Linked DNA regions of Homo sapiens. The protein of the gene in region 2 purifies or fractionates together with the protein of the main gene of each other region. This does not show direct contact. Each region holds a gene or a part of one and is shown on either strand. Other genes may lie near its edges. The genes, in order: AGL and SULT1E1.

Region 1 (3,825 bases), on a different chromosome or scaffold from region 2:
AAAGCTGTCTTGTAATCCTGAGAGCCAATGCATTTCTACTTTTGCCCAAGTTAGGTTATTTTTAAAAAAACATACCTTAGACTTGTGCAATGTGTTACAAATATTTTGCCATAAGCGAAAACAAATAAGCACATTACAGTTAAAACTGTACTGTGAAAGAAACATTTTGGTTGGTTTAAAGCAGACTTTAAACCTTCTTTATAATTATTAGAATACAAAAATACTGACTATGGTCAAGTCTATTAGAAATATAATACATATAAATTTTAAACACGAATATAACTTTCAATTAATAATGGGCAATAATAACTGATGAGGCAGGAAAGTTTAGTTCCACTGAGTAAAATCTTTAATATCTAAGGAATTTCTTTGAGAGGAAAAAAACTAATATTTACCTATTTAATATATATTATTTATAATTTATAATCCTTGACTTATTAAACATCCAACAAAGTAATAAAAGAGGATATACTAACAGGGATATTTTCTGTGAACAAAAGATTTCAGTAAAAGACACTAAGAGAATGCTCTATAGTGAAACTAAGAATTTCTTCTCTAAGCAACTAAATGTACTTTTTCTATAATACAATTTGGCATTAATATATTAAGAATGTTTATATTTTTTGATCTAGGAATTTTATATAGATTTTTTGAGAAAAGTATCAGTGATGTAAACAGAGATTATGTATAAGGATATTTATCACAGCCTCATTTATTGAAATGAAATAAACTGACAACAACCTAAATATCTAATGATTGGCAGTGATTAAATAAATTATGGTAAATCTACAAGCTGGCATATTGTAAAGCCATTATAAATCATGTTATCAAAAGACATTTGGCCAGGCACAGTAGCTCACGCCTGTAATCTCAACACTCTGGGAGGCCGAGGCGAGAGGATCACCTGAGGTCAGAAGTTTGAGACCAGCCTGACCAACATGGTGAAACCCCATCTCTACTAAACGCAAAAATAGCTGGGTGTGGTGGTGTGCACCTGTAATCCCAACTACTCAGGAGGCTGGGGCAGAATTGCTTCAACCCAGGAGGCAGAGGTTGCAGTGAGCTAGGATCGCACCACTGCACTCCAGCATGGGTGACAGAGCAAGACTCCATTAAAAAAAAAATGTAATAACCACTTTTAATTTATTCTATTTTGTTACATTGTACACATTTATGTAGAGCTTTTAAAATATCTTCTGGAAAAAAGTATGGCTGAAACATGGCAGTAGGCAGGGAGGTAGAGTACATACACCATAATACTACTACAAACGGGAAAAAGGCAGGTTACAAAATTGTTTAGATAGTATAATCCTAATTAAAAAAAAAACACAGAAAAAATGCTTTTTATACATTTGCATAATTTTATAATTAGGGAAAACATTTTAAAATTAGAGCTACAATTATGAAGGGATAGACTAAGAAATAATTACAGAAAGAATTAAAACATGAAGTAAAATACTTAGTGACTGAGAAGCATAAACATTTACATCTCACAAGAATGACTAAATTTATCTTTAGGAGAAATAGTGTCATTTTGAACAAGTACAAACAGCAGAGATTAGCTGTCTGGGTATATGTGTACAACCTGTCCCCTGTTAAGTTTATACAAATACTGTTTTTATAATTACACAAGTATTCAGAGAACTTGCAGAGCAAAGGTTAAAACTCATCTAAAATCTCCAAAACAGTATTTGGATCAGTGCTCTACCTTCAGGAAAAAACCCCAATAATTCCCAAGCTAAGTCATTTATTTATATAATATATATGTATGATGTTCTCATAGATTATGTAAATTATAAAATATAAAAGTTAACTTAATGGGATAAGATATAAATGAAATAAATAATATTTAAATAATACATTTTATTTATTAGTGGGTAGAAAAAACCTTTTGGCTCTCACTAAAAATTAATATTGATAATATCTCTCAGTGAAAATGTAACTAAATAAATTTCATTATTTTAAAAAGTCTTGGTTTTAATATTTTGTAATAAAGTGATTCAAAGATTTCAAGTTCTACTTATTTTGGGTAAAATCATATAATGATGAAAGAAGCATTTCTAAAAATATATATTCAAAATGCTTTCACTATAGCAAGGGTTGGCAAAGTATATCCAGCCTAATCCCCATTTCTGTAAATGAAGTTTTACTGGAACACAGCCACATCCATTCATGTATGTTTGCCTATGGCTGCTTTCCTGCTACAATGGGAGTTGAGTCGCTCCAATAGGGAGTGCATTGCCTGAAAAGCTGCAAAGATTTGCGATCTGAACTTTTGCAGGAAAATATGTGCCAAACTCTGCTCCAAGCATCAATTTCCTTCAAAAAAGCACTTAACTTTCTCACTCATGTTTACATCAAAGACTTAAGTTTTTATTTTTTCTGAAAATATTTTCTAAGTATCATACTATCTAATGCTACTTGTTATTTCTGAAAAGGACGAATCTCAAACACTTTCTAACTCATCTTTTAAGTTCGATCACTCCTGTGAGGTAAAAGAACTATTCTTGGTTACTCTACCTCTCCTTACAAAGTAATATAGAGACTGTTATTTAAGATAATATAACCCGTAAAGCTACTTAACCTAGCTTAAGTAAAAGTGCAATGCATGGCAACATACTGCAAACAAATGAGGGTGTGATTGTCAACCCCTTCCAGACCTACAACCTCTACGTTTTCTTCTGAGTATGCCTTTTTTGTTTGTAACTTATCTGACATACAAACTGAGAGCATAATTCATATATTAACGTAATTCAATGTTGCTAACATATAACAGACTTAAAAAACTAAAACAGGTAGAGAGAAAAGAAAAGAGCCCTCTCCCTCTTCCCCCCTCCCCCTCCCCCTCCCCACGGTCTCCCTCTCCCCCCTCCCCCTCCCCACGGTCTCCCTCTGATGCCGAGCCAAGGCTGGACTGTACTGCCGCCATCTCGGCTCACTGCAACCTCCCTGCCTGATTCTCCTGCCTCAGCCTGCCGAGTGCCTGCGATTGCAGGCGCGCGCCGCCACGCCTGACTGGTTTTCGTATTTTTTTGGTGGAGACGGGGTTTCGCTGTGTTGGCCGGGCTGGTCTCCAGCTCCTAACCGCGAGTGATCCACCAGCCTCGGCCTCCTGAGGTGCCGGGATTGCAGACGGAGTCTCATTCACTCAGTGCTCAATGTTGCCCAGGCTGGAGTGCAGTGGCGTGATCTCGGCTCACTACAACCTCCACCTCCCAGCCGCCTGCCTTGGCCTCCCAAAGTGCCGAGACTGCAGCCTCTGCCCGGCCGCCACCCCGTCTGGGAAGTGAGAAGCGTCTCTGCCCGGCCACCCTTCGTCTGGGATGTGAGGAGCCCCTCTGCCCGGCTGCCCAGTCTGGGAAGTGAGGAGCACCTCTTCCCGGCCGCCATCCCATCTAGGAAGTGAGGAGCGTCTCTGCCCGGCCGCCCATCGTCTGAGATGTGGGGAGCGCCTTTGTCCCGCCGCCCCGTCTGGGATGTGAGGAGCGCCTCTGCCCGGCTGCGACCCCGTCCGGGAGGTGAGGGGCGCCTCTGCCCGGCCGCCCCTACTGGGAAGTGAAGAGCCCCTCTGCCCGGCCAGCCGCCCCGTCCGGGAGGGAGGTGGGGGGGTCAGCCCCCTGCCCGGCCAGCCGCCCCATCCGGGAGGTGAGGGGCGCCTCTGCCTGGCCGCCCCTACTGGGAAGTGAGGAGCCCCTCTGCCTAGCCACCACCCCGTCTGGGAGGTGTACCCAACAGCTCATTGAGAACGGGCCATGATGACGACGGCGGTTTTGTGGAATAGAAAAGGGGGAGAGGTGGGGAAAAGATAGAGAAATCAGATTGTTG
Region 2 (4,304 bases):
ATTAGTATATATTATGTAAGTTTCTAACTGTGCTCAACAACATCCATTTCTCAATGTACTATTCAAGTTACAGGTAAAAATTGTGGTCATGGAATAGAGCTACCTTTTCTATGTCCATATCAAAACTACCGCATCTGTTCTTAATATAGAGAATGAGTGTGTACGACATGAACACCTTAATATTTACCATTTACAGTGTGTTTGTTATTTTTAGGTGAAAAAAGAACAACAAAGAGATTTACCAGATTTAGGGTAGGTGGCAATGACAAGATCATCTGGTCTTGCCTGGAACGCTTCCACATTATCCCAATATTTGACAAAATCTTTATACATTAGAATCCCATGGACTTCTTCAAACTTTTCATAATAGTCAAGTTCAGAATTCATTGTGGTACACTGAAAAAAAACCTCTGCTTTATACTTTGTATGTACTTAACAATATTTCACCATTAACAACTATGTATATAACGGGACCCTCCTACATACCTAGCACTTCTTAGTTGTTGCACATATGGGGCAAAAACATAGTAAAGTTGCATATCAAATAGTTTTGGTACATAGAGAGTTTTTAACCTTATTAGAAAGATGTCTAACACATAAAAGAATAGGAAAGCACAAGTGATTATGAAGTAAAATGCTTAAAACTAAATAAAAATGTGGATATATTCAATTATATTTATTCCGTGATAAATAAAAACCACAGAACCTTCAATTTCTTTCAAAATTGCTGGGGCATATAAAAAGACAAAGAGGTCCAGAATTACAGTTATTTTAGCAAATTATCCAATTATGTATATGTCAAATAACAATAAAGATCATTACATTTGATTATTATTGCCGGGTATCTAAGTCAGAGATTTTTGACTTCCTGAATATGTATCATTTTTTTAAATAAACCAAATGCTTGGTGAATGTATTTAAAAGAAAAGATGAAATTAATTACACTGTAATGGTTATATCAAAGAAATGGAATCTTGAGAGTATAAAGGATTCCTCTGTGACCTTTAAAATTACTTTTTTCCCCATTCGATCAATAAGGTAGTGGATACTCCCATTGAATGACTTGGCTAAAAATGATAAGGTTAAGCAAGATGGTTATCATTTCCTAATTCATCTCCTGATCCCATGACAATCTATTTCATGTTCAAGGTTACTAACAGAATTTTTAATTAGGCATACTTTCTTTCATTAGCTTTCAAATTCCTTTAGTATCTTGTTTTTTCAACTGCCAAACTTAGCTTATTTCAAGTTTCTGACATAGCTTCCCAACACATTTTGTCTTTCCTGACATTAGCCTTTCTAGATCTTCCTCCTGTTCACATTTGCCCAAAAACCTGCCTGATAAGTTCTTCTACACACATAAATTGCCCCAGCCCTTAGGACAATCTCAACTTTTAAAAAACCTTCCTCTACATCATATCAGATGTAATGTCACCAAAAATATGAGATTTCTATTTCCAAAATGCATATTAGCCTTATCAATAAATCACTTGTTCCCCAAGCCTTCTCCTTAGTCTCAGAAAATAGATCTTTCACTAGAAGAAATGTGTATAAAATGCACCACGATTTGTCCTGCCTATTGGTTTGCTTACTCATGTGAATTACTTTCTTGGTGTTCAGCCAAGTTTATAAGAATTGGCTTATAGTCAGCTGGGAGTGGTAGATTTATCATTAAGTGGTTGGCTGACTTCCAGCTACTCCTTCATAGTCAATTTTGGTCTGAGAGGCAAAGTAGGTGGCATGTAATAAAATATCTTTTCTCATTCTATTCCTTTTGGTAAATTGTCTCATATTACAATGTATGGATTTACTTCCTATGTGATCCCCATTTTCTCAAAAGATCTATTTCAGTTAGAAATTGTCAATTTTTTATTCTGAGTATGTAGGTCAGTTGTTCAGAAATAAACATCAAAAAAGTTGTTAAAATTGTGACTTATAAATTCAATTAAACTCAGAAAGTGTTTTTCCTTCCCGCTCTCCTTCCTCTCTTTCTTCCTTTCTTTCTGCATACTCCCCTCCTGCATCTTCCAACCTGCCTTTTATCCAGCAAATACTCCCTATGTGAATGCCTACCCTTTTCCTAGGCCCTGTAGTCAGTGCTAGAATACTATGGTGGATATAGATACATAGGGTTCTCATAGTCCCTACTTTCTTAGATTTACCTGTATGAGGGCAAAGTGACTTTTGTACATGTTTCTATCCCAATCTCCAGCACTATGACACAAAGTAGATGTTCAGAAATATTTGTTAAGTTCAATTATTAGATCAAGAAGCTCTCTAGTTTCTACTAAGTAAGGATTCACAGATTTAAAAGGCAATATATGTCAATGACCTACATATTAATTATTTACCAAGGACTTTGGATTTCTGTCATATTTATCTGAAGTTTCTTACATGAAAGTAATGCCCCTATTTGCAAGACCCCTTATCACAGGAACACAAAACTAAAAGTCAATCTCTATTCTACCTCCTTCTACCCTGCTTGCTTTATTTTCTCATTGGTAAAATGGAGAACACGTCCAGCATTCAGCACTTTTAAGATAGCAATGGTACTGTAATTTTACATTAAAGCAATAAGCAACAAAATACTACATAAATGTAAAATATTATTTTTAACAACAAATTATTTTAAAAGGTTTTAAATGCTTCACATCATTAATTAACTAAAGTATCAATCAAGACTTTGGTCTTTGTATATTTTATTTTTAAGAGCTTTGTAATACATAATTTTCATTCTATATTTTATATATCTAAAATCTAAGTATTGATATTAATAATAAAAAAGTACAACCTGTTTAGTTGATCCTGTGAAAGAAATTGATCTAGTTTATATCTCTTCAAATACCAAGGCAGATCTTAAGCTGCAAAAAAAGATGAGAACCACTTCTGCATTTGGAATGTTTCTGGTGAGTTTATATCCTGAATGCCAGAGAAGGAGGTGGAGATTAATTTGGGGGCTTGGCTTCATGAAGTCCATGATGCAATAGTTAATGTAGATGTAAATGCATACCTGCAGCTGCAGTAACCACACAGAGTCATGTTCATTCATGGAGATGTAGAAATATCCTGCTGTTATTTTTTTAATTATTTGGCTCATATTCAAATTCCCAAGTCTGCCGTCAGGGGTTGGGGAAGAAGGAGGGAGAAAAGGAAAAGATGAGAAAGAAGAGGCCTGGGAAGAGAGACTGGGAAGGGAGAATCCCTTATTCACTCATTGACAAATAATAGCATGACTATGGTTAACTTTCAAAAGAATAAACTTATTGGAGTGAAGAAAGAGAAGCCAATGAGGAAAGAAATAAGACAGCAAGGACCCTCAATCAGACCTAGCTCAGTTTATTAAGACCTGCCAAAGAAGTCATTGGGTTGTATCTTAACATGTCAATTGGAAAACACCTATTTAAACTCTTTGCCTTTAACTCTTAAGCAGACCTGAAAATTTTAAAAAGCAGATGACAGCTAAAGAAAGAATGTAAACATCACTCACCTTTCGATTATTATTTTAGAAACCTGACTTCTCTCTGCTCCCAACCACAAAATAGCATACTGTGAATTTTTCAGGTAATGATAGCTACCAACACTTGGAATTTACACAAGAGAATTAGAAAAATAAATGGCCAAGGGTTTGTGGAATCCACAAATGCATTACCTTTCTTTTCATTTTTCTGCACCTACTCTGTCACTTAAGAAAATTATCCTTTGCTCCACCCCATCAACACCTCCAACCCTGTTATTTCTTATTTCTCTATTAATTACTGTTAGATTACATTTCCTTTGAGAGGCTCACTCTTACAAGACTCTATGTTTCTCTTAGTGACTTTTAAACTTTGAACTTTCTCCTAACTAGTATTTATTTTACTGTGTTGTAAATCAATGTTTGCTTGTCCAGAGTACTTTTTAAATTATAAATAGCTTGAAAACAGGGTCTTACTCTGTAATTAGCATTTTTTTCTGGCATCTAGTAGGCTAGGCATTGAATATGTATTTACTGAATAAAAGTGGCTGATTTATTCAAGAAATATAAGAAGTTAAGGGGGCTATAGTTGTTATAGAAAGCAATATCTAGCCTTATGCAAAATAAGAGGTGTTAAGTGGTTTCTGAAAAATGGGGCTTTTCATAATAGAAAATTAAGGTAGAAAAGGAGTAACCAGGGACCCAAATTTAGATTTTCATTTTACTTTGTTTTATGCAGTCTGTCATATTATTTGAGTTAAATAAAATATGTGTTGAAAAACAATCATTAAATGTACAAATTTACTCATTCATATGCCTACTATGTACCTTTAAAAATTAAGTATATATA

The links.
Region 1: the proteins of SULT1E1 (region 2) and AGL fractionate together in Homo sapiens (co-fractionation; one large-scale study listed by BioGRID). This does not show direct contact.

The regions. Positions count from the first base shown.
Region 1 is NC_000001.11:99,856,857-99,860,681, reverse strand, and holds part of AGL (glycogen debranching enzyme), read right to left. Parts: intron 1-3,825. UniProt on the Homo sapiens protein: Multifunctional enzyme acting as 1,4-alpha-D-glucan:1,4-alpha-D-glucan 4-alpha-D-glycosyltransferase and amylo-1,6-glucosidase in glycogen degradation.
Region 2 is NC_000004.12:69,857,258-69,861,561, forward strand, and holds the start of SULT1E1 (sulfotransferase 1E1), read right to left. Parts: upstream 2,889-4,304; 5' UTR 2,792-2,888; exon of another isoform or gene 397-2,791; 5' UTR 388-396; coding exon 243-387; intron 1-242. UniProt on the Homo sapiens protein: Sulfotransferase that utilizes 3'-phospho-5'-adenylyl sulfate (PAPS) as sulfonate donor to catalyze the sulfate conjugation of estradiol and estrone. Is a key enzyme in estrogen homeostasis, the sulfation of estrogens leads to their inactivation.